Linked DNA regions of Homo sapiens. The protein of the gene in region 3 interacts with the protein of the main gene of each other region in a pairwise test. Each region holds a gene or a part of one and is shown on either strand. Other genes may lie near its edges. The genes, in order: TERT, FGFR4, MAP2K3, ARNT, GLIS2, SMAD1 and MAP3K5.

Region 1 (3,500 bases), on a different chromosome or scaffold from region 3:
CCCCTGACCTGCACCATCCAGACACCACACATCCAGCTCACAGCAGGGCCTGGCGACCTCACCCCGGACCTGCATCATCCGGACTCCATACCTCCAGCTCACCGAGGGCCTGGAGACCTCACCCCTGACCTGCACCATCCAGACACCACACATCCAGCTCACAGCAGGGCCTGGCGACCTCATCCCAGACGTGCACCATCCGGACACTGCACATCCAGCTCACTGAGGGCCTGGCGACCTCATCCCGGACCTGCACCATCTGGTACAACAGCCATGGCCATGGGAAGCCCAGCAGGTCCAGGCCGAGATGGCCACGCACGGGACCTACACACGGGATCCCGCAGACAAAGCTCAAAAAATGTCAAATGTCCTGTGAGTGATGCTCCCACCAATAACACCCTAAAATGATGAGGTGTGGACATGCTGGGCTTCAGTAAAATCTATTATTACATTAATTTCACCTTTTCTTTTTTACTTTTTTAATGTGGCTACTAGAATTTTTTTTTTTTTTTTTTTTTTTGAGACAGAGTCTCGCTGTGTTGCCAGGCTGGAGTGCAGTGGTGCAATGTCGGCTCACTGCAACTTCCAACTCCCAGGTTCAAGCAATTCTCCTGCCTCAGCCTCCCGAGTAGCTGGGATTACAGGCACCCGCCACCACGCCCAGCTAATTTTTGTGTTTTTAGTACAGATGGGGTTTCATCATGTTGGCCAGGATGGTCTCGACCTCCTGACCTCGTGATCCACCCGCCTTGGCCTCCCAAAGTGCTGGGATTACAGGCGTGAGCCACCGCGCCCAGCCTAGAAATTTTAAAATTATCCACATGGCTCACGTCATGCTCCTGTTGGGCGACAACGGCTCGGAGCCTCATCCTTTGTCCTGGTTCCCAAGCAGAAGGGAGGAAGCAGACACTCCCCCGCCAGGCAGCACCGTCAGAGCTGGCGCCACACCGCAGGTTTGCGCGATTTCAAACTCGACACCGCGGAGCCACCAGACCCCGACATGCCTGGGGTTTTCCAGGCTGAACCCAGGCCGAGCGGACGTTGCTGTCACTCACTGGCTAAGGAACGCTGGCCACGTGGTGCTCCAGACACTCACGGGCCAAGATGACCGCCCTCCTCGTGAGTCTCCACATCTTCATCTGTGCATCATAAGCAGAGGTCCCCGGACGTCGCTAGATGCCATGGAGGCCAGCACAGGTAAAGCTGGGGTTTACCAGCAATAACAAGACAGAAGAACCACGCAAAGGACAAGGAAGGGGACCCCAGACGGCGGGCCTGAGACAGAAGACAGACGGGGAACAAAGGAGGAAAAGCAGGGCGGGGGCAAAGCTACAGAAACACTCAACACGGAAAACAATATTAATAATGCTTAGCTTGTGGGGGTGTCAAGATGCCTGAGATAGAACTAAGTCAGCAGGGAAAACAGCACACAGGCTGGGGGGTGGCCAGAGCTAAAATACACTAAGGGTCTTATTGCTCAGGACAAGGGTAGCAATGTTTCAGACTTCATTTTAAAAGATCAAGGTATGCCGGGCACGGTGGCTTGCACCTGTAATCCCAGCACTGTGGGAGGCCAAGGCGGGCAGATCACTTGAGGTCAGGAGTTTGAGACCAGCCTGGCCAACATGGTGAAAGCCTATCTCTACTAAAAATACAAAAATTAGCCAGGCGTGGTGGTGGGCGCCTGTAATCCCAGCTACTCATGAGGTTGAGGAATGAGAACTGCTTGAACCGAGGAGGCAGAGGTTGCAGTGAGCCGAGATTGTGCCATTACACTCCAGCCTGGGTGACAGAGTGAGACTGTCTCAATAAACAAAAGCAAACAACGACAATAAAAAGATCAGGGGGTAACACTAAGCAAAGAGAAATAAAAGCAAATGCCCAGTGACCAGGAGGCAACGAGAGGATCAACACACACTCGGCAGGAAACGCACATGGCAACCCAAGAGGTGGTGAGAAACAAGGGAACGAGGACATGCAACAGGCAAGTGGAGAATCAGAGTGCACCAGGCGGGTCTCTAGTGACAAAAAAATGAAAATAAATCAGGTTATCCAGTTAAACAACGACTGTCAGACTGGATTGGAAATTCACCTACATGCTGTTAACAGGACATACCCACACTATAAGAATATAAAAGTGTTGAAAATTAGGCCAGACATGGTGGCTCATGCCTGTAATTCAGCACTTTGGGAAGCCGAGGTAGATGGATCCCTTGAGTCCAAGAGTTTGAGACCAGCCTGGGCAACACAGCAAGACCCTGTCTCCAGAAAAAATTTAAAAATTAGCCAGGTGTAGCGGTGCGTGTCTGCAGTTCCAGCTATTCAGGAGGCTGAGGTGAGAGGACGGCTCAGGCCAGAAGGTAAAAGTTACACTGACCTGTGATCACACCACTGCACTCACCCTGGGCGACAGACCAAGACTCTGTCTCAAAAAAAAAAAATATATATATATATATATAAATTAAAGGCAGAAAACAGACACAGCAGGAAAATACTAATCAAAAGAAGCCCAGTGTGGCAGTACTAAGAGCAATTTAAAAAAAGAATTACTAGATTACTAGAGACATAGAAGTCTCCAAAAGATTCACTCATCAGGAAGATAAAAATTCTACCACGTGCATGCACCTAACAATGCCTCACATAAATGCTACCAAACGAGAAGAAATGAACAGACCCATCCCCCAGGTGAGGGACTATGGCCTCCTTCTTGGAATTTCATGCATCTAGAAGGAGACAGAAGCTTTGCACTGGACCTTAATAAGCTGGATATAGTGAACATGCATGCCCACTATTGACAGGATGTCAAATTTACAATGGACAGTTCTGGAAACCATGCACACACTAGATCACAAAGCAAGGCTCCGCAAACTTCAAATAATTGGTATTATACAGACCACTACACAACTGAGTTAGAAATCAATAATAAAATGATAACTTAAAATACTCTACGTATCTTGATACTCTACATATCTTGAACATAAACAGTGTTCAAATAACTCACTGCTCAAAGAAATCACAGAATAAGCTAAAGAATACTTAAAAGTCACTGATATCAAAATGATTTCACGTCAAAACACAGCGTGCACAAAGAAAAAAATCACAGAATAAGAATACTTAAAAGAAGTATTAACACTTTGAAGTATTTTAAGAACACTTGAAAGTGGCTGATGTTGAGATTACTTCACATCAAAACACAGGGTGCAGGTAAGGCAGCACTTAGAGGGAAAGGCATGACTAAACTAAGAAGCTAGAAAAGGAATGAAAGAATAAACCAAGAAAAAGCATACAATGGAGAGATAGAAACGTCAGAGGTAAATCAGTGAAATTCAAAACTAAGACCCAAGAGGGAAGTCTGACGAAGGCTGGCGGAGACACCGGCCCTCCACGTGGGTCTCAGAGCAGGAGACAGACAGAGACACTCCAACCTGTGGCTGGACGTCAATCCATGTGAGGGGGCGACTGGAGGCAGAGCCCAGCCTAAGCAATGAGCGGCAGGTGCC
Region 2 (3,500 bases), on a different chromosome or scaffold from region 3:
CAGGGAGAACTGCAAAGTGGGAGACTTGGTTCTGCCTGCTGGAGTCAGGCTGTCACATGTGAGGTGGGGGATGCGCCCAGTACCTGTCGGGCCAGAGGGAAGCGGGAGAGCTTCTGCACAGTGGCGGGCGGGCGGGGGTGCCGGCCGTGGAGCGCCTGCCCTCGATACAGCCCGGCCAGCAGCAGGAGCACAGCCAAGGCCAGGGAGCCCGACGCGTACAGGATGATGTCCGTATACCTGGCCTCGGGCGCTGCTGCGGTCCATGTGGGGTCCTCCTCTGCCCTCGCACATGGACACACACAGACAGACAAACTGGTCAGTGGTGAGACTGGCCGCCCCGTGCACCCTAACTCAGTCCCTCCCAGCTCCCAACATATGTGGGGACACACACGGAGGAAGCTGTAGTTATGCCCAGTCCCAGGCACCCACACCTCAGCAGACGGTCACATGGACGGCCACGTGTGGAGAGGCACAGAGGGGCTGTCATACAGCTCAAACCCACAAATCCACACACTGCCCCCCAGGCCAGACCCCACAGGCCAACAGAGACTGACCACCCAACAGGCCACAGCCCCCACTGCTGGCCCAGAGGGGCATCTCGCAGCATCTCCTGGCCCTTCAGGTGCTCACCTGGCAGCACCGTGAGCCAGGCAGACTGGTAGGAGAGGCCGATGGAATTGCCTGCGAGGCAGGTGTACTCGCCTGCGTCCTCGGCTGACACGTTCCGCAGGTACAGGACCTCCACCTCTGAGCTATTGATGTCTGCAGTCTGGGGTGGGGGACATGCTCTGGGGTCACAGCAGGGCCTGGGGCCACACTGTGGCCAACAGGGAAGCTGGGGAGCCCCCCAACCCAAGGTGGGAGAAGAATGGGGCCCAGGCTGCAGCAGGGTGCACCTTTTACCTTTAGGACTTGCACATAGGGGAAACCGTCGGCTCCGAAGCTGCTGCCGTTGATGACGATGTGCTTCAGCCACTGGATGTGGGGCTGGGCATCGCTGTACACCTTGCACAGCAGCTCCACGTCGCTGCCCACCACGGCTGTGGTGTTGGCCGGGAGCCCGGCCTGCAGGATGGGCCGGTGCGGGGACCGCTCTGGGGACCGGGCGAGACAGTCAACCCTGACCACCGGCACCCATAGAAGCACCCTGTTTGCCTCCCTCCAGCCTTCCTCAAGTTCAAGGGAGGGACCTTTCTGCAGCTTCTTGTCTGTCTCCTGCTTACCCTGCTTAAACCTTCCCTGGCTCCCTATTGCTTCGGGTCAAGGACAACATCTCAGCCTAGCATTCAAAACCCTCCACCACCTGGCTCCCCATATAAACGCCACGCCCTACGAATATGCTGGCCTGCAAGTGCAGGGCGTTTGTTATACTCAGGCCCTCCGCTCGGGCTGCGCCCTCTGCCTGGATGTCCTTCTTGTTTTTCCTCTTGGCAGACCTCTGCTCCTCCAGCCCCACACTAACCCCTGTGCTTTCCCCTGACCCACCTGCTCACCAAGCTGCCTGACTCATCTGAGTCCATCCTGCCTGCCAGACTAGACCCCACCAAGAGGGCACAACTGAGCCCAAAATGGGTCAGGCCTCCCCTGTTCCCAGCCCCGCGCTCACCCAGCACATCTAGCAGGTAGTTATAGCGGATGCTGCCCACAGCGTTCTCTACCAGGCAGGTGTATGTGCCGCGGTCCGAGGGCACCACGCTCTCCATCACGAGACTCCAGTGCTGATGGCGCAGCTGCAGGCAGAGAGAGTGTCCGGGACCACCGGACCATGTCCACCAAGGGGGCCAGAGGACCAGGAGGCTAGATCCTCATCCTGCCCACAGGGCTCTTGTCAAGCTCTCTAGGCCCTGAGAACATCAGGCCCAGGCCAAGGACTATGGCACAAAGGAGTAGGCTCCCCAGGGCGCTTGAGCCTTGGGTTTGAGCCTTTGGAATTTTAGCTCTCCCTCTCCCTAGCTGTGCTACTTTGAGCCAACCCTTGCCTTCTCTGAGACTCAGTTGCCTCATGACAGCATGGAGCCGACCCTGCAGGGTCTCATCAAGACGATGAGATGCTAAGGCTTATGCAGACCAACCAGTCAGTGATTCTTCTCCCTTTACAAATGGAGTTGCTGAGGCTGAGAGGTTAAGTCACTTGCCAGAGAGTAGCAGAAGGGGAACCAGAGCTGCCCAGGTCCACAGTCCAGGGCTCCTTCCGGGGCCCCGCAATCGCTTCACTCATTCGATTGATTTATAGGTATGCTTGTAGGTATGAGGGGACTGATGAAGGAATGAAAATGGGGGAGCAGACGGTCTTGGAACCCAGAGACTCACCCGAATGCCTCCAATGCGGTTCTCCCCATGAAAGGCCTGTCCATCCTTAAGCCAGCGGATGGTGGGCGTGGGGTTGCCTGCAGCTGGACAGCGGAACTTGACGGTGTTCCCCGCAGGTACTGCATGCAGTTTCTTCTCCATGCGCTGGGGGTGTGTCCAGTAGGGTGCTGGAGGGCAGGGGAAGGCCCCTAGAATGACCGTGTGTTCCCACACAGGCCTCCTCTTCTCAGTGATCAGATGAGCAGCAGCGGGGACACAAGTCCTTGGAGACCTACTGACCTTGCTGGGGGTAACTGTGCCTATTCGAGGGGTCCCTATGGGACTTGGGGTCCTCATCATCGTTGCTGGAGGTCAAGGAGTCTACATCAGGGACAGAGGGAAGCATCTAAGGTCCAAGAGGGGCAGGTCTGTCTCCCCAGGCATCCCTTCACTCCCTGCTAGAGTCTCTTACCACCTGTAATCAAGGTGAGATTCTGCAGGACGATCATGGAGCCTCGTGCCAGGCAGAGGTAGCGGCCAGCATCCTCAGGTAGGAAGCTGGCAATCTCTAGGCGGCCCCTCCAGCCCCGTACACGGCCAGCAGGTGCCAGGCGACTGCCCTCCTTGTACCAGTGGCCACCACGCTCAGCCCGCCCACAGCACAGACGCACAGGCTGCCCAAGGGCTACTGTCAGCTCCTGCTCTTGCTGCTCCAGGCTGGGAGCCAGGCAGGGCTCTGTGGGCAGAGGGCAGAGGTCAGCAGACCCCGCAGCCCCATCTGAGGCAGCCTCCTGTGTACAAAGAACACACCGCACATGCAGGGCACAAGCACTTTGCAACGCATGCTGAAGGAGCCACCACTCCTTGACACCCACACAGCCACATGCTGCGGATGCCACACCCAGGGCAAATGCCACACTCTTGGGGCATGTCACACACACAGCATTTAGTGCACACGACAGTGGCCAAGACACACACACACACACACACGCATACACACACACACATACGGACACACACACACACAAGGCACATGCTGTTGGTGCCACATACAGGGTCATGCTGCACCGGGGCATATCACCCTCATAATGCTTATACCACACATGCTGCCTGGACCTCCTAGGTCACACACCCAGTGCACAGAACACACACACACACGCACACACACCCAGGTAAGGAGCTCACCACCAGCTCTGCAGCCCAGCTTAGGG
Region 3 (3,500 bases):
TCCCCCAAAAGCTCAGGGCCCCAGGCACGGCTCCACCCACCCCACCTGACCACCAAGGGCAGGCCCTGGCCCCCCACAGTACCATGGTGATGCCCAGGCTCCAGACGTCGGACTTGACATTGTAGCCCTTCTGGTTCAGCTCTGGGTTGATCCTCTCAGGCTGCAGGAGGGAAGAGTGAGGCGTGAACACCCGCCCCAGGTAAGCCCCCATGGCTAGGCCTTGCCTCCCAATCCCCAAACTGAGCGCTCAGCTTAGCCCACCTGCCCATGTGACGGGGGAGGAAACTGAGGCTAGGAGGGCCTGGGTCATGCTTAGAAGGCCCAACCCTTGCATCGGTCTGACCCTACCCGGGAGCAGGCCCCTAAGGCCCTCCTGACAATGAGGGCGGGGCGGGACCTGCACAGCCCACCAGTGTCCTCCGCAGAGGTGGTCCATGAGCTTATCACCCAACTGGGGCACTGTGGGGGTCAGTTAACAACGGGGTACAGAAGGGCTGCCCCTGGGCAGCAAGACACAGGTGGCCCCACTACAGCAGGAAACGCAGTGTGGGGAGGCTCTGCCCCTACGGACAGAGGGTATGGCCGGGGTGGCCAGCCTGGGCAGATTTCTCCCCGCCCCATCCTCTCCTGAGCCTGGGGGGCTTGGGGACCACTCACGGCCATGTAGGGCTTGCAGCCGGCATCCATCGTCTTGGCCACAGAGTCCACCAAGTAGCCACTGATGCCAAAGTCACACATCTTCACATGGCCCTCCTTGTTGATAAGGACATTGGAGGGCTTCACATCTGCCAGGGAGGGACATGCCTCAGCCACGTCTGTGGAGCACGACTGGAGGCAGGTGCCATGCTCTGCATAGCTGTGCCCCCCTCCCTCGCCCAAGACCCCTCCTGTGCCCCCTCCCATGCCCCAGTGGGCAGGTTGCACCAGGGTCCCAAGGGTCAGACCAGGGAACTGAGGCTGCAAGAGGTGCCGGGCCAGCTGAGAGTCATACTTGGTCCTCAGGGAACAGCCAGGACGTGCCCAGCCCGGCCCGGCCACTGCAAGGAAGGCAGGACTCCAGGTGCTTTGCTGGGAGCACCGTGCCTGCATCCGCCCTCCAGACATGAGGTCCAGTGAGAGCCTGGCTTGTGTGGGTGCTCCCAGAGGGCAGCAGGATCAATTAAAGCCTGGGAGGCAGGATCTGCGTGTTTGGACATGGAGTCCCCACAGACCAGCATGGGAGAGCAGCCCAGCAGGGATTCTCCATACAAATGCGCATAGGACACTCACATCCCCGTGCCCTCCATGGGGATGTGTGTAAAGATGGAAATGCACATAAAAAGGACCAGAAGGTTCCGTGCCAACCGCCAACCACAGTGACCTGGGGGGCTGGGATGGGCACCCAGTGGACAATGGGAACTAAGCCTAATTCATTTTTTGAAAAGCAGTAAATCTGGAAAAATAGACTTGTGCTCAGCAGCAAAAAGGAACAAACTGAGACCACACCAGACCCAGGTGGGTCCAGAAACATCAAGCGAGGCTGATGTTCCAGAAAGGGCGAAACCAACCCACTGTGGGAAAACCAGACTTGTGGGTGCCTTAGGCACATGGGGGATGGCAGGGAAGGAGCCCAAGAGAACATTCTGGGAGGGGGTGAGAGAATTGTCCTGCATCTTGGAGGGAGGTGGTTGCATGGGTGTGAACATGATTATATGCACTCTATGCTGGAGTTTCACGATTTGTAAACTATACATCAGAACAGAACCCAGTCCACCTTTCTCAGGACAGAAGTCAAGCCAGTCCTTGCTTCGAGCACCAGCAAACCTGAGGGGAGGCAGCTGCAGGGCTGCAGGTGGAAAGCGGCTGGAACCCCATCGGGCACGTCACAACCTATCACCTCTCGGAGCCACAGTTGCTCATAGGGAGACGTCCACCCGCCTTGGCCTGGGATCCCTCCCACTGGCTACACCGTGCCTGGGTGGCTGCCGGGCACTGACCTCTGTGGATCACCGACAGCTTGCTGTGCAGATGCTCCAGGGCCCGCACGATCTGGCGGTGGGGTGGGGAGGAGGGAAGAGACAGGACTCTGTTATTCCTGGTCACGTCAAAAACGACAGAGCAGTAAGACCCCATCCATGTCCACCTGTCTCCCGCTCCCGCTGCACAGGCTACGCACCCTCTCATCCCAGCCTCCTGCCCTGTCCTGGCATTTGCCCCAGCATCCTAACAATCCTGGTGCAGACACACTCGGCCTCCTGCCTCCTCTCATCCTCCCGGGCTCACCTCCCAGGGAGGCATCATCACTGCCTGCCACACTCTTCTTGGGTAAAACCCAGCTCTTGGCAGCCTCCCTGTCCCATCTCCCCTCCCGTGGCAGAGCCAGTATTCTAGCAGCTTGGAGCCATTTCCCTTGGGAAGGCTGGGTGGGGAGCCTGAGGCAGGGGTATATTGTAAATGTTTCCAGATGCAGTGAGGATTGAACCAGTCTCACTGGTTCTATTTTCCTTTTTCCTTTGGCTACTGGAATGCTCAAGCCCAGTGTTGCTGCCCTCCCTCAAGGACTTTTTAGACTCAAAAAGCACACATTTTGGATGCTAACCTTTCCCCCAACTTAGCTTGTACCTCTGTGAGCTGCCCCGGGGCATTTTTAGTATGACGCTGTTGTAAATACTAAATTCCTTTTTTAAAAAATGATCTGGAACTCAAGAGTTGGAATCAATGGCTCAGACACCTGGATCTGCCAAATCTGTGGGGCTCCAGGAGCCCCAGGAGCGGAGGTCTCCTAAGCACAAAGGCTCTGGTCTGGGGTGGAGGAGAAGGGCCTATGCAGGGCAGCTGCCCAGGTTCAGGGGGCACATTGATGCCCAGCTCTGCCCAAGACACCATCAATAGGCAGGCTCCATGCCTGCTGGCAGGGCTGGGCCTCTGCCTATGCACCTAGGACCCCCCGCCAGCCCACCCAGGCCACTCACAGACACAGCAATCTCCCCAAGGATGTCCTCTGGAATTGTCATGTTTTTATCCAGCACCTTCCGGTAGAACTTGTCCAAGGATGTGTCCATGAGCTCCATGCAGATCCACACGTCTCCCTGTGGGTGACACCCAGAGCTCAGCCAGGCTGCCGGGCTGCCCGTGTCTGCACCACCTGCACTGCCTGCCCCAGCACCAGCCCCAGCCCCAGCCCCCTCTCCGACGTGTGCCCACCCACTCAGCCACAGTTCACCGGGCTCCCACCCACCACCCACTTGCCCGCTTCCCCCACCCTCCAACTCTGCCTGCACTGCCAGGTTCGGGCGCCAGCCTCCTCTATCTGATCCCTAATTCCAGGTGTCTCCAGGGAGGAAGAGGATTAGCACACAGCCTCGCTGGGTCCCTCCACCAGAGCTTCAGGATGCACCTGCACCAGCTCCATGGCAACAGCCGGCCCTGCTGACCGACAGACACCCTCATGCCAGCTGACCCTGGCAGATGGCTCCCTGCCTGCAAGGACCTGCTCCCTCTTCCCCAGTGAACTCCTGAGG
Region 4 (3,500 bases), on a different chromosome or scaffold from region 3:
CAACAATAAAATTCTGTCTCTAACTTCTAGTAGCTATGTGACTTCAGACAAGTTACTTATTCACTCTCTGTGCCTTAGTTTCCTCATCTGTAAAACAAGAATAATAATACTTACCTAATACGATTGTTATAAAAATTAAATGAGAACAGCTGGTAAGTATTACTAATAAATATTAGATATTATTATAGTTAGTACAAATTCATGATGTCAATGGCTTAATTAGTTTTATCCCTTCAAAGGTATTTCATATTAACAGTGGGTTTTACATTCATTTTTATTCCACAAACATACATTGAACTCTAATCCAACATACTAGGCACCCACTGTAAGCACTGCAATGCTCTGGTAAACAAGGAAAGCAAAAGTTCTGCTCTCATGGAACTTATATCCTAAGTATGCTGGTTTTGTTGTGTTTTTTGAGACAGGGTCTCACTCTGTCTCCTAGTCACCCAGACAGGAATGCAGTGGCACAATCATGGCTCACTGCAGCCTCAACCTCCCAGGCTCAGGTCATCCTCGCATCTCAGTCTCCCACGTAGCTGGGACTACAGGGAATGCTACCACACCCTGCTAATTTTTTGTATTTTTTTGTACAGATGGGGTTTCACCACGTTGCCCAGGCTGGTCTCAAACTTTTGGGCTCAAGCAATCCACCTACATCAGCCTCCCAAAGTGCTAGGATTACAGGTATGAGCCACCATGTCCAGCCCTAAGTATACTGTTGAATCCATAAACTTACTTGTCCATTCAACTACAATGAAAACGTGGAGGGAAAATATAAAATGGGCCTCAGAGGGTGGCTCACACCTGTAACCCCGGCACTCTGGGAGGCCGAGGCAGGAGGATTGCTTGAGCCCAGGAGTTTGAGACCAGCCGGGGCAATATAGTGAGACCCGGTCACTATCTAAAATAATAAAAACTTTAAAACAAGAAAATACATTGACGAAATTATGAAAAGTGACATAAATTTGAAGAGTTTATGTGAAAAGTTGGAGACAGTTGCTACAGACTAGACATAAAGATTAGCAACAAAATAGGAAAGTGCAGCCTGGCATATAGAAGGAACTTAATTATCCACTCCTTTCCCTGGGTTTGTCTCCTTAAGTGTAAAATGATAGGTGTTGTCATATTTCCAACCTGAAGATTCACTGATGTCTACTTACTAAAGTCATTATGGCATATTAGGCAGTCGTGGTTTTTTTTTTTTTTTTTTTTTTTTTAGACGGAGTCTCACTCTGTCGCCCAGGCTAGAGTGCAGTGGTACGATCTCAGCTCACTGCAACCACCACCTTCCAGGTTCAAGCGATTCTCCCGCCTCAGCCTCCCGAGTAGCTGGGATTACAGGCACCTGCCACCATGCCTGGCTAATTTTTGTATTTTTAGTAGAGACAGGGTTTCTCCATGTTGGCCAGGCTGGTCTTGAACTCCTGACCTCAGGTGATCTGCCCACTTCGGCCTCCCAAAATGCTAGGATTACAGGCATGAGCCACCATGCCCGGCCAAGGCAGCATTCTTAAAAACAGATGGCGGCGGAGCATGGCGGCTCACGCCTGTAATCCCAGCACTTTGGGAGGCCAAGGTGGGCGGATCACCTGAGGTGAGGAGTTCAAGACCAGCCTGGCCAACATGGAGAAACCCTGTCTCTATTAAAAATAAAAAATTAGCCGGCGTGATGGCAGGTGCCTGTAATCCCAGCTACTCGGGAGGCTGAGGCGGGAGAATAGCTTGAACCCAGGAGGCGGAGGTTGCAGTGAGCCAAGATCACGCCATTGCACTCCAGCCTGGGCGACACAGTAAGACCCTGTCTCAAAAAAAAAAAAAAAAAAAAAAAAAGGCCTTTGCAATATAATAAAATACTATCTCTTTTTTTGTTGGGGGACAGGGTCTCACTCCAACACCCAGGCTGGAGTACAGTGGCATGATCACAGCTCACTGCAGCTTCAACTTTCCAGGCTCAGGTGATACTCCCATCTCAGCCTCCCAAGTAGCTGGGACTATAGAAGTGCACCACAGTGCCCGGAAAATTTTTTGTATTTTTTGTAGTAAAGGGGTTTCGTCACGTTGTCCGGGCTGGTCTCAAATTCCTGGGCTCAAGCAATCGGCCTGCCTCGGCCTCCCAAAGGGATTAGAGGCACGAGCCACCACACCTGGCCATAAAAGAATATCTTGACATCTTAACTTTACATTGCATGAATTCCTATTTTCCCATATCTGAAAAAGGTAAATAAAGGTAACAGGTAAGAATTGTGTTAATTGACGCAGTTAAAACTAAGTTATATAGGTGAAAATTAGCTAAAAAAAATTTTCTTCCTAAATGACAGCCTTACAAACCCAAACGGTATTACCCTTTTCCTTCTACATTCTTCATCCACAGTAACTTGTACATAATAGCACAAAAAGAATTCTCTGCTAATGAGAATACCAGAATCAAGAGAGATAAAAACCTACACTTACTACAAACTCATTCAACATCTCTAGTTTGAATTTGGAATTGTAAATCAAATACCTAATCTCCTCCCAACTGTTCCCTCAGCCAATGCATTACAAATGACACATTCAATTTAAAAAGTGTTCCACCTTGGCTGGGCATGGTGGTCATGCCTATAATCCCAGCTCTTGGGGAGTGCCCAACGCAGGAAGATCACTTGAGGCCAGGAGTTAAAGACCAGCCTGGGCAACATAGCAAGACCCTGTCTCTAAAAAAAATTTAAAATTAGCCAGCCACGGTGGTGCACACCTGTGGTCCCACCTACTCAGGAGGCTGAAGTGGGAGGATCACATGCTCCCAGAAGGTCAAGGCTGCAGTGAGCCATGATTGTGTCACTGCACTCCAGCCTCAGTGACAGAGCAAGACCCTCTCCTATGGGGAAAAAAAATGTGTTCCTCAAAACTTGTCTAGTCCGGGCCGGGCACGGTGACTCAAGCCTGTAATCCCAGCACTTTGGGAGGCCGAGGCAGGCGGATCACAAGGTCAGGAGATCGAGACCACCCTGGCTAACAGGGTGAAACCCTGTCTCTACTAAAAATACAAAAAAAAAAATTAGCCGGGCGTGGTGGCGGGTACCTGTAGTCCCAGCTACTCGGGAGGCTGAGGCAGGAGAATGGCGTGAACCTGGGAGGCGGAGCTTGCAGTGAGCCAAGATAGCACCACTGCACTCCAGCCTGGGCGACAGAGTGAGACTCTGTCTCAAAACAAACAAACAAACAAAAAAAAAACAAAACAAAACTTGTCTAGTCCATAGATAAGAAACAGCCTAAAGTTTCATGGACCACCTACCCACCGAGTTCTACTTGCCAGTGATAAGTAGAACTAGTGAAAAATGATAGAATATGAAGAATTATCAATTCGAGAAAAAAAATCATCACAGAACTATTACTTCAACACAACTCTTAGAGAGTACCAACCATATTTTACTCTTCTTCTAATGCAGCACCACAGTGAAAAATGCAGAAGAACGTGGTCCCCTTGAAAAACACTGCAGGGCCACCAGCACAATTAA
Region 5 (3,500 bases), on a different chromosome or scaffold from region 3:
CAGGACTCGAACCCAGGGCCCCTGGGTCCCTGTCAGACGGGCAGGTAGGAACCTTTCTAGCTTTTCCCAGGCCCCTTCCTGCCTCAGTGTTCCCTTCTGTAAAGTGGCAGGTTCGGGCTGGGCTGCTCCCATAGCCTTCCCCTTCAGACAAGCGGTGAATCTGGTTTTCGGGTGACTCTGCTCTTGGAGGCAGGGCAGAAGTGGTGCCCACCACCCTGGGCCCAAGCACCGGGAATCCCTGAGAGGCACCTCCTGGGCTCAGACCCAGCCTCTACTGCCCAGGTTGGCCAGCGGCACCACCCCACAGCCTAGGGTGCAGGTCCTGGGACTACTGCCGCTCCTTCTGAATGCCTGGTTGCCCGACCAGCTCTGTTCCAGATCTGCCTAGAGGCCTCAGTTTGCATCGTGTGCCAGCCACGTGAGCTGGGCACTGCAGCTCCCACCTCCCTGCAGACATACGATGCTGGGCGGATGGAAGGACAAGCGTGCGGGCTTCCCATGAACCGGAAGCCGAGAGGGGCTGCAGCTACATGCTGGTGGACACACTTGGCCATTCTCCCTGTCACCATGACTGGATCAGGGCTAAGTCCCCCTGCCCTGCCCAGGGCCAGTACCTGAGGGCGGGGAGCCTGGAGAGCCAGGTGTGGGGCTGTCATCCACCAGGCCCAGCTCCCTGTGCAGAGCACGGGGCCGGACCACACCCAGCGTCCTCTCCCGCTTCTCTCTTGCCGCCCGGAGCTTGGTGATACTCAGCTTCAGGTCGAGCGGCTCGTCCAGGGAGTGCATGGTGAGGGGGCCGGAGTTGGAGGTGGCAGCAGGCAGTGGGCTCCCAGCTGGTCTTCACGCAGGAACCTGGGGAAGGACAGGAGCTGTGCTGTGGCACTGAGACCCCAGGCTTCTCCTCGGGCTGTACTCATGACAGTCTAACAGGAGCAGGAGCAGGGGGCAGTGTGAGGTTGTCTCCTGGGTAGGGAGACCCTCCGAGCGACCTGGCCGGCAGCTATCATGGGGGGAGAGCCAACAGCCTCCTCAGAGATTCCGCATCTGCTTCCCATGAGTCTCTTGGGGAAGACAAAGCTCACATTCTTCATTTTGCCATGAAACTGAATTTTATTTGCTGACAGAGTCTCGCTCTGTCACTCAGGCTGGAGTGCAAGTGGCACAATCATAGCTCACTGCAGCCTCGACCTCCTAGGCTCAAGCGATCCTCCCACCTCAGCCTCCCTGGTAGCTGGGACTACAGGCAGGCACCGCTCCTGGCTAATTAAAAAAAAAAATTTTCTTTTTTGTAGAGATCGGGTCTCTCCATGTTGCCCAAACTGATCTCGAACTCCTGGCCTCAAGCGATCCTCCTGCCTTGGCCTCCCAAAACGCTGGGACTACATGCCTGAGCCACCACGCTTGGCGAAACTGCGTCTTTTACAGGCATCGCCTCAGATCGCAGAGCTCAGAAGTGGAAAAACTATCAGATTTGCCAAGACCAGCTCGGTCGGGAGACTAATCCGGCGGCGCTAGAGGAATTAAAGACACATACGCAGAAATATAGCGGTGTGGGGTGGGAAATCAGGGGTCTCACAGCCTTCAGAGCTGAGAGCCTTGAACAGAGATTTACCCACGTATTTATTGACAGCAAGCCAGTCATTAGCATAGTTTCTATAGATTATAGACTAACTGAAAGTATTCCTTATGGGAAATAAAGGGATGGGTCTGGCTAGTTATCTGCAGCAGGAGCGTGTCCTTAAGGCACAGATCACTCATGCCATTGTTTGTGGTTCAAGAACGCCTGTGGCCGGGCGCAGTAACTCACACCTGTAATCCCAGCACTTTGGGAGGCCAAGGCGGGGAGATCACGAGGTCAGGAGATAGAGACCATCCTGGCTAACACGCTGAAACCCCAACTCTATTAAATAACAAAAAAAAAAATTAGCCAGGTGTGGTGGCGGGCGCCTGTAGTCCCAGCTACTCGGGAGGCTGAGGCAGGAGAATGGTGTGAACCCGGGACGCAGAGCTTGCAGTGAGCCGAGATCGCACCACTGCACTCCAGCCTGGGCGACAGAGCAAGACTCCGTCTCAAAAACAAACAAACAAACAAAAAGCCAAACGCTTTTAAGCAGTTTTTCCGCCCTGGGTGGGCCAGGTGTTCCTTGCCCTCATTCTGGTAAACCTACAACCTTCCAGCGTGGGCGTCATGGCCATCATGAACATGTCACAGCGCTGCAGAGATTTTATTTATGGCCAGTTTTGGGGCTAGTTTACAGCCAGATTTTGGGGGGCCTGTTCCCAACAAGATTCAAGGCCTGAAGCCAGATCTCCCGGGAACTGGCTAGCCGTGTCCTAACAGCCTTTTCTGACAGAGCAGGAGCCATGCTCCGGACTCCCGCCCTGTTTGACCCCAAAGATCTAGAACCAGGCCAGGGGGCAAGGAGCATCCTCTGAAATGGCCGGCAGGTAGCCACGCTCACCACCAAGGAACTCGCACCAGGCAAACCGAGAAAGTGGGCACAGCCAGGGGCCCCACCGCCCTCCCTGCAGAGGCCTAGAGGAGAGGCATCGCAAGCCAGGGAGCCCCAGGGCGCTGGGTCGCCACCAGGGGGCAGCTGGGGATTGTGGCCTGGCCTGGCCAGCTGGGGCAGGGTTGGTGGAGTTGACCAGCTGTATCTGGCGGTTAATATATAAATATGTAGAAATTATTTTTTACTGGAGATGGTATTCTTTTAGTATCACTTCCCATGCTGTAATTTTCATCATTTTTCTTAGAATTTCTCACTGGTTTAATTTTCATTTTCTTTTTGGAAATGGAGTCTCTCAGTCACCCAGGCTGGAGTGCAGTGGTGTGATCTGGGCTCACTGCAACCTCTGCCTCCCGAGTTCAAGCGATTGTCCTGCCTCAGCCTCCCAAGTAGCTGGGATTACAGGTGTACACCATCACACCCAGCTAATTTTTCTATTTTTAGTAGCGACAGCGTTTCACCATGTTGGCCAGGCTGGTCTCAAACTCCTGACCTCAGGTGATCTGCCCACCTCGGCCTCCCAAAGTGCTGTGATTACAGGTGTGAGCCACCTCGCCCCACCTGGTGTAATTTTCCTCACATGCAAATGATCTAACAGTATCCACCGACCCAAGAACAAGGTCAACACTTCATTCTAAACCCAAACTTCACATTCAGAGCAGCAATCTTTTCCTACGCGGTTAAACACGACATTTCCTTGCGTTTGTTCATTGGGATTATTACAACTTGAAAATCTAACTGCCGCACAATCACGCTGTGAGATCCCGTCTTTCGCGGTATTGGGGTCTTTACTCAATACCAAAGGGCGGCCATGGTGGACATAACTACTACATGGTGAAATACTTTGGATATGCCCCCGTGTGTTTCCCTGGGGGCTAGCATAGCCTGTGAGTGGGGAGAGATGCTGTCCACAGGGCAGGACAGGAAGGCAGCTCCCACGTCCTCCCCTTCTGCCCTGACTCTCCAAGCAAGTAGGGCATAAAATGGTCC
Region 6 (3,500 bases), on a different chromosome or scaffold from region 3:
ATACACACATACGTAATACATGAGAACATAAACATGCATACATACATACACATATGTATTACTAAAATCAGAATTTTGCACTGATACTTCTATTCTCCTTCACAGGGTTTACTTTTTGCTCCCCTCCGCATTTATATGTCTGTTTTCCACAGTGGAAACCCAAGCTCCCAACAATATCCACACATTTAGTCATTTGCTTCATCTTTACATATGAAAGTTTCAGAATGGTTTCACTCATACTGCTATGAAATAATCAAGTTTACTAAAAAGAGTTCGGGATTTATTTGAAATCCTACCCCTACTCTATCTACTCCACTCAGCCTAGGCTGAGGATATATAGTCACTTACTATATTCATAACTTACTAGGCTTGTTTTTTGGTCTTTATTTTTTCTTATTATAAATATATCCATGCCTGATTTTTTGTTCTTTTGAAGGTGCTGTCTTATATGGACAGTTGTTCAATTTGGTGTCCCTGTGGGGGTACAATCACTGCAGGGTTCTATCGTGCCACCTTGCACGATGTTTGTGCTAAAATCTAGTTCTTTCTTTTCTATTTACTGAGTTATGGTATTCATTTGAAATACAATTAAGCAATTAACTGTAATTTGCTTTTAATTTTAGGTTGTGATTCATTTTATAACAGCCAATTTATTCTGCAGCAAAATATCATACAGAATAGTGTCTTAAAATGGCAAATCATAATTTCAACTAATTAATTTCAATATTATGAGTTGATCGACCACAAAAATCACTGACTGCAAGAGCTTCCAGATAGCAGAAACTGGAAAAATATTTACAAACTGCAGCAAGTGAACATTACCTGGTCTTTGCTACAACAGTTTGTTACAGGAATGATTTTAAGTCAGCTCTGGAGGAACAGGGACACAACAGATAAACATCTGAAAGAGGTTAAAGCAAAAACTCACCTTTTCCAATATGCCGCCTGGTGTTTTCAATAGTGGAATTCCGGTTAACATTGGAGAGCAGCCCAAGGCAGAAACGGTTCTTATTGTTGGAAGGATCAGTGAAACCATCCACCAACACACTTGTGGAGGAGGCATGGAACGCTTCACCCACACGATTGTTGAGCTCATAGTAGACAATAGAGCACCAGTGTTTTGGTTCCTCATAAGCAACCGCCTGAACATCTAGAGGAAAGAAAATGTTATATCAACCAAGGTTAGTGCCTCAGGCTCTCAAAAACTGAAACCGTGTTGTTGAATTGGCTCAGGATCATGGAATGAAGACACTGGAAAAGCAATTGCTATTATAATGTATACAGTTTTTCTATGATGTTTAAAGCAGGTACTTCTTAATATGACACTCTCCTTATTCTCCTAATTGGAGAAAATTGGAGAACAATTTTCTCCAATTACTATCAGATAACCAAAACACCAGCTAAGGAAGCACAGCAAAAACTTTTGCTGAATATTAACAATATGCTAATTGCTCTGTAATATGCAGAAATGGAAATCACCCCTACCACAGACTTTGGCTCACCATCTAAAGAAACACAAGTGACAAGTGAAAAAATAAGTGGGAAGAGAACAATAGAAGACTGAAAATATGCCAAAGGTACTGGCATAAAAATGAATTACTTTTGGCAAAGACTAAGTATGCCTATGCTTATTCAAAGCCATGAAAATCAGTTTCTAATTATTGATAAGAAGTTACTTTACCTCATATTAAGTTGCCAATAACTATCACAGCTACAGTGTTGCTCCAGTTCTCAAACTCAGGAAGAAATCTTGCCAGCTGGCCATTCTTACAGAATGAATCATATCTTTCTCATCCAGATTTCATGCTAACTTCCTTATATTTGCTTTAAGTCATGCAGAGCAGGTGTGTTTTGTCTCTCCATTCCCAGAATGGGCCAACAATGGAAATTACCCAACTTTACTGACAGGATGCAGCTTGTTAAGTCAAATCTCTTAAGACTAACAAATCTCCAAACAGAACATGGTTCTAAACATTTGCAACTAAAAGGTTTTAAAGATGAATTCCTTCTGTAGTAAAACCTCTTGTACCACTCCTTTAGAGATTCCAGGAATACAAACCATATATTTCCAGCATACCAATATATAATGATCTGAGGTTTATGAAGTCTTGGGTGTACAATAATAAAAGGAGGAAAAGAAAGAAAGTCCACATCAGAAGCCCAGACTACAACTGCTAAGGGAGAAGCACCTCTGTGTTCTTAACATCAAATTCCACAAATACTAAAATGCACTTTACTTTAGAATTTGGTAAAAAACAAAACAACAATAACAAACACACACACACACACACACAAAAAAAAAACAAGGAAAATACTCATGAAAAAACCCACACATAAGTTAGTCGCTTTACATATGTAAGTAGTTAGCTAAAAACATACACTATCTTCCCTGCTTGCTAAGCAACTCTACCACATCAATTTGCTATAATTCAAAGAGCAAAACTTTAGTGATTTACAAGTGCCAAATCTTAAAGCAGACTGCAACATTATTAGCAGAAGGCTTTTATCAGCTATCAGGATACTTCAAAATACTATTCATCTAGGTCAGAGGTTGATGAATTTTTTCTGTGAAAGGCCAGCAAGATTTTATGGGCTGTATAATCTTTATCACAACTATCCAATTCTGCCCTTGTAACACAGAAGCAGTCATAGACAATATGTAATGAATGAATACAGCTGTGGTCCAATAATGCTTTATTTACAAAAACAGATAGCAGGCTGAATTGGCCTGTGGGCTGTAGTTTGTTCACCCCTGCTCTAGGAAAATCACCAAAGGTTAAAAACAAGTTAAAAAAAAAGCGGGGGGAAGAAAAAAAATGGCCAACATTCCTTCCTCGTGAAAATATTAACTGACTATAAACTATAAAGGAAAAAAAAATTAAAGCTATTTAAATGAAAAAAATCTTAAAGCAATTTAAAGATCTGTTTCCTGAAATCAGACATTTTGGGTTTAGTAATAATAGTTACTGGGTCCACATGCTCCTAATAGTGTGGTACTGTGCCTATTCTCTCCTGGTATCCTGGTCCCCAAATATAAATTCCACAGATGTGTGAGATAGGGGTTATTTCCCCCAACCAGAGTGTTCATTGACTCAGAATTATGTTTGATAAGATGTTCAAGAGATAATCAGGAACCATAAAATACAGAGGCAATAAAAAAGATTTAAAAAATCATAATGATTAAAGTGGTGTACATTCCAATTTATGACACTGCACATCCAAGAAAGGTCCTTTGAGTTTATCACCAATTTTTTTTTTCTTTTTTTTTTTTGAGACTGAGTTTTGCTCTTGTTGCCCAGGCTGGAGTGCAATGGTGTGATCTCAGTTCACTGCAACCTCTGCCTCCTGGGTTCAAGTGATTCTCCTGCCTCAGCCTCCCAAGTAGCTCGGACAACAGGGGCCCGCCACCACACCCAGCTAATTTTTGCATCTGCAGTAGAGACAGGGTTTCACCATGTTAGGCAGGCTGGTCTTGAACTCCTGACCTCAGGTGATCCACC
Region 7 (3,500 bases), on a different chromosome or scaffold from region 3:
CCTGGGTGACAGAGCAAGACCCTATCTCAAAAACAAAAACAAAAACCTGTCTCAAGAGGAGCTGCCTGTTTATTTAATTTCCCCATCCTACAGTTCTGGAATTACCCACCAATCCACCTCATCACCCCTGCCCATCCAAGGTTAAAAATTGACCTCATGGCAGATCCTGCCATACTTTTTTGGAACAGAAAGGCAGACAGTTGCCTTGATTTCAAAATATTGCCCTGCTAAATAAACACAAAATAAAAATAAAATTGATGTACTGGATTGTTCTTAAGATAAATACTTCTAAGAGCTGGATTCGGAGCAAATGAGGTGGGCTGTCAATACTCTGCTTCCAGTGTTGAAGTTCTGGTGTTTAAGGTGTTAAAAGAAAGCTTCAGACAAATTAAATTTAATGGAGTTTAATTGAAAAAGAAAAAAATAGTTTGTGAATCAGGTGGCCTCTAGAATCACAGCAGATTCAGAGAGATTCCAGGGATGCCTCGTGGCCAGAACAAATTTATAGAAAATAAAAGTAAAGTGACGTACAGAAATCAGAAGTGTGCAGAAAGAGCTGGATTTGTTATGGGTTGGCGTTCACCTTATTTGAACACTCAGCAGTGTATGAGTGGTTGAAGTATGGCTCCTGGGATTAGCCAAGACTCAGCTATTGTTATAGACGCATACTCCTAAGTTAGGTTTTCAATCTTGTCTACCTGTTAAGTTATAGTTTGTCCACGAGGACTCAAATATGCAAGTACGGAGTCCTTCTCAGGCCATATTTCATTCACTTTAACAAAAGATAAAAAGAAATTACATAGTCTAGACAAACATAGGTTAAACTCTAGAAAACATCACTGTGTTCCTTGAGAAAACAGTAAGAAGATACCATCACTGTCTTATACGTATAAATTAGCAAGTAGGACAAAAATACATACCAGATCAAAAAACTGCCAACTTAAACATTCACACAGAGCTTCCTGCCCATTTCTTTGGATAATATTTGTTTTGAAAGAGATAAGAAGCCTCCCTCCAAGACCCTGTGCTCCCTCTTCTAGCTTTCAGTTCATGCTGCTTCATCCACCTCATTGTGCACCACACTTACCCTGCAGCTGTCTTTGTTAACTTATTTTCCTCCACCCACCTTCTCTGTCTACCTCTTATTGTGTTTTACTTTTGTCCCACCTCTGCTACCTACTCTGCTGTGATCCCTTCTCTCTGAGGATCTCATCTTTATGTCCTGTGGGAATGGGGTCGAGCCTGGGGGTCTGGGAAGGTTTCCTTCCCACTGAGTCCTGGAAAGGCTCTTTTCCAGGGACTGAGGTAGCAAGGAACAGAACATCCCTTATTAAAGACCAGACACTGACTTGGCACTGTACCTATGCTGTCTCATTTAATGCTCACAATAATCTTTTCTGGAAGCTTTAGTTTTCTTTTTTACAAATGATTTGAAAACTGAAGCCTGGAGGCATTAGGTAATTTATCTAAGGTTAACACAGGAAGTGCAGGGTTGAACCAGGACACAAGCCCAGATCTGTCAGTTGCACGATGCTGCCTTCAGATTATGTCAAGTGAAGCAGAAACAAACTCTTGAGTTAAATCTATCAATACTCAGAAAATGAAACAAATAGAGTTTGTTAAGAGCTGTAGTTTATGCAACGATTTATCCTGATAATCTTAATAACGATATATTTTAAATTATTATTTCTGAATCCAACTTACATTAAGATACTTTTCTAAAAAATTAGAGCACCTCTTTTCATAACTTGGAATGTTTTCTTTGAGAAATTCTATTGGAAATGGTGAGTAGGTTACCAGTTGGCTCTCAGTTGCATAGTGAACCTTCTATGGGTAAGAACTTTGGTATGAATATCACAGTTTCTCCTTGTTTCTTTGGAGACTGCATCAGATGCCAACTAGGAACTGAATGTACCAGGAACACAGCTATCCTTTTACCCACTTCACCCCCGCCCCCTTAGAAGGAAGAGGAATAATAGTAACAATCACAATTGTAGCAACAACCGTGAACATTTACTGAGAATTTGTTATATGCCAGATATTCTAGGCGACCTCACCTATGACTGTTTCTCAAATTTTCATAGTTTACAAAAAGTGATTACTTTTCTGATTTGCATTGATTATGAAATTATGCACATTTGCCAACTTTTTTTAATGGGGGTCCATACATGTAAAATATAGGCCTGTTAATATCTGTATCCCATATTTATATCTTTGACATTTATGGTCATAACAAGAAATATCAGGACACATCTCTGAAGATTTTGGCAGACAATCTGTGGTGGAGGTTTTGAATTCTTGTCGGCAAGCACAGTCTTCCAAAGCTTAGCTTCTGGACCTGAGGGTCTGTGAACCTGCAACATCAGTGTCATCTGGGAGCTCATTATAAATACAGTCTCAGAACTCACCCCCGGGGCACTGGACCAGTATCTGTATTTCAATAAAATTAGGGGTGTATGTGCTTATTATAGCTCATGTCTAGAAGGTCATCCTAGGCCTGGCACAGTGGCACATGCACACACCTATAATCCCAGAGCTTTGAGAGGCTGAGGTGGAAAGACCACTGGAGGCCAGGAGTTCAGAGACCAGCTTGGACAACATAGCAAGACTCTGTCTCTACAAAAAAAAAAAAAAAAAAAATTAGCCAGGCATGGTGGTGCATGTCTGTATTCCCAGCTGCTTGGAAAACTGAGATGGGAGGATCGCTTGAGTCCAAGAGTTTAAGGATGCAGTGAGCTATAATTGGGCCACTACACTCAGCCTAGGCAACAGAGAGAGACCTTGTATCTAAAAAAATAAAAATAAAAAAAAGAAGGTCACCCTGTGTCACCTCCTGTCAAACAATATATTTTTCTTCTGCAGATTACTGGAAGAATTGGTTCGGAAAGAGAAAGAATTACAAGCACTCCTTCATCGAGCTATTGAAGAAAAAGACCAAGAAATTAAACACCTGAAGCTTAAGTCCCAACCCATAGGTGAATAGCAGAAAGTTTTATAGTAATACTGTTCAGCCAGGCTGCCACAAAAAGCCAAGAAAGCCAACAGGAAGTTTTATTTGTGGCTAAGTCAGCATTTCTCACTTCTACCATGACTGCAAGCAGGAATTCCTTTAAAAAAAAAAAATCCAGTTTTTAACTGTAGCAAACTCATTTCTTATAAGTGCAGTAAAAATAGATTATTCATAATCATCTTTTCCTGAGATTATGTATTACTGAGGTAAACAGGGCTCTCTGTTTTTAGTCTTTATTTTTAAAGATTTCACAATGAGCTTACTAGAATAAATAATACTATTTTTTGTCATTTTGCATTTATATTCTGTGTATTCTAGCCTTTTTCCTTATAATTTGAAGAGGCTTAAATAGAATAAAGATGTAGTAGTAAAAAGGCATAGCTGGGGAGAATGTTATTTAGCCCATTTAGAGGAAAACAGAATTCATAGTTATTTGTTTAGATATGTGGCTCTTTCATAGTGGAAAAAGAGATTATGATAATTATATAGT

Evidence for each region.
Region 1: the proteins of MAP2K3 (region 3) and TERT come close enough for resonance energy transfer, tested with the Homo sapiens proteins (one large-scale study listed by BioGRID).
Region 2: the proteins of MAP2K3 (region 3) and FGFR4 come close enough for resonance energy transfer, tested with the Homo sapiens proteins (2 studies listed by BioGRID).
Region 4: the proteins of MAP2K3 (region 3) and ARNT come close enough for resonance energy transfer, tested with the Homo sapiens proteins (2 studies listed by BioGRID).
Region 5: the proteins of MAP2K3 (region 3) and GLIS2 come close enough for resonance energy transfer, tested with the Homo sapiens proteins (one large-scale study listed by BioGRID).
Region 6: the proteins of MAP2K3 (region 3) and SMAD1 come close enough for resonance energy transfer, tested with the Homo sapiens proteins (one large-scale study listed by BioGRID).
Region 7: the proteins of MAP2K3 (region 3) and MAP3K5 interact in binary tests that used the Homo sapiens proteins (3 or more experiments, as listed by UniProt).

The regions. Positions count from the first base shown.
Region 1 is NC_000005.10:1,285,069-1,288,568, forward strand, and holds part of TERT (telomerase reverse transcriptase), read right to left. Parts: intron 1-3,500. UniProt on the Homo sapiens protein: Telomerase is a ribonucleoprotein enzyme essential for the replication of chromosome termini in most eukaryotes. Active in progenitor and cancer cells. Inactive, or very low activity, in normal somatic cells.
Region 2 is NC_000005.10:177,089,915-177,093,414, reverse strand, and holds part of FGFR4 (fibroblast growth factor receptor 4 isoform 1 precursor), read right to left. Parts: intron 3,026-3,500; coding exon 2,762-3,025; intron 2,671-2,761; coding exon 2,590-2,670; intron 2,478-2,589; coding exon 2,311-2,477; intron 1,731-2,310; coding exon 1,607-1,730; intron 1,095-1,606; coding exon 904-1,094; intron 770-903; coding exon 631-769; intron 278-630; coding exon 84-277; coding exon of another isoform or gene 10-83; coding exon 1-9. UniProt on the Homo sapiens protein: Tyrosine-protein kinase that acts as a cell-surface receptor for fibroblast growth factors and plays a role in the regulation of cell proliferation, differentiation and migration, and in regulation of lipid metabolism, bile acid biosynthesis, glucose uptake, vitamin D metabolism and phosphate homeostasis.
Region 3 is NC_000017.11:21,301,711-21,305,210, reverse strand, and holds part of MAP2K3 (dual specificity mitogen-activated protein kinase kinase 3), read right to left. Parts: intron 3,069-3,500; coding exon 2,952-3,068; intron 2,029-2,951; coding exon 1,977-2,028; intron 786-1,976; coding exon 658-785; intron 161-657; coding exon 83-160; intron 1-82. UniProt on the Homo sapiens protein: Dual specificity kinase. Is activated by cytokines and environmental stress in vivo. Catalyzes the concomitant phosphorylation of a threonine and a tyrosine residue in the MAP kinase p38.
Region 4 is NC_000001.11:150,870,100-150,873,599, forward strand, and holds part of ARNT (aryl hydrocarbon receptor nuclear translocator), read right to left. Parts: intron 1-3,500. UniProt on the Homo sapiens protein: Required for activity of the AHR. Upon ligand binding, AHR translocates into the nucleus, where it heterodimerizes with ARNT and induces transcription by binding to xenobiotic response elements (XRE).
Region 5 is NC_000016.10:4,329,567-4,333,066, reverse strand, and holds part of GLIS2 (zinc finger protein GLIS2), read right to left. Parts: intron 853-3,500; 5' UTR 787-852; coding exon 615-786; intron 1-614. UniProt on the Homo sapiens protein: Can act either as a transcriptional repressor or as a transcriptional activator, depending on the cell context. Acts as a repressor of the Hedgehog signaling pathway. Represses the Hedgehog-dependent expression of Wnt4.
Region 6 is NC_000004.12:145,544,353-145,547,852, reverse strand, and holds part of SMAD1 (mothers against decapentaplegic homolog 1), read right to left. Parts: intron 1,151-3,500; coding exon 929-1,150; intron 1-928. UniProt on the Homo sapiens protein: Transcriptional modulator that plays a role in various cellular processes, including embryonic development, cell differentiation, and tissue homeostasis.
Region 7 is NC_000006.12:136,561,978-136,565,477, reverse strand, and holds part of MAP3K5 (mitogen-activated protein kinase kinase kinase 5), read left to right. Parts: intron 1-2,862; coding exon 2,863-2,975; intron 2,976-3,500. UniProt on the Homo sapiens protein: Serine/threonine kinase which acts as an essential component of the MAP kinase signal transduction pathway. Plays an important role in the cascades of cellular responses evoked by changes in the environment.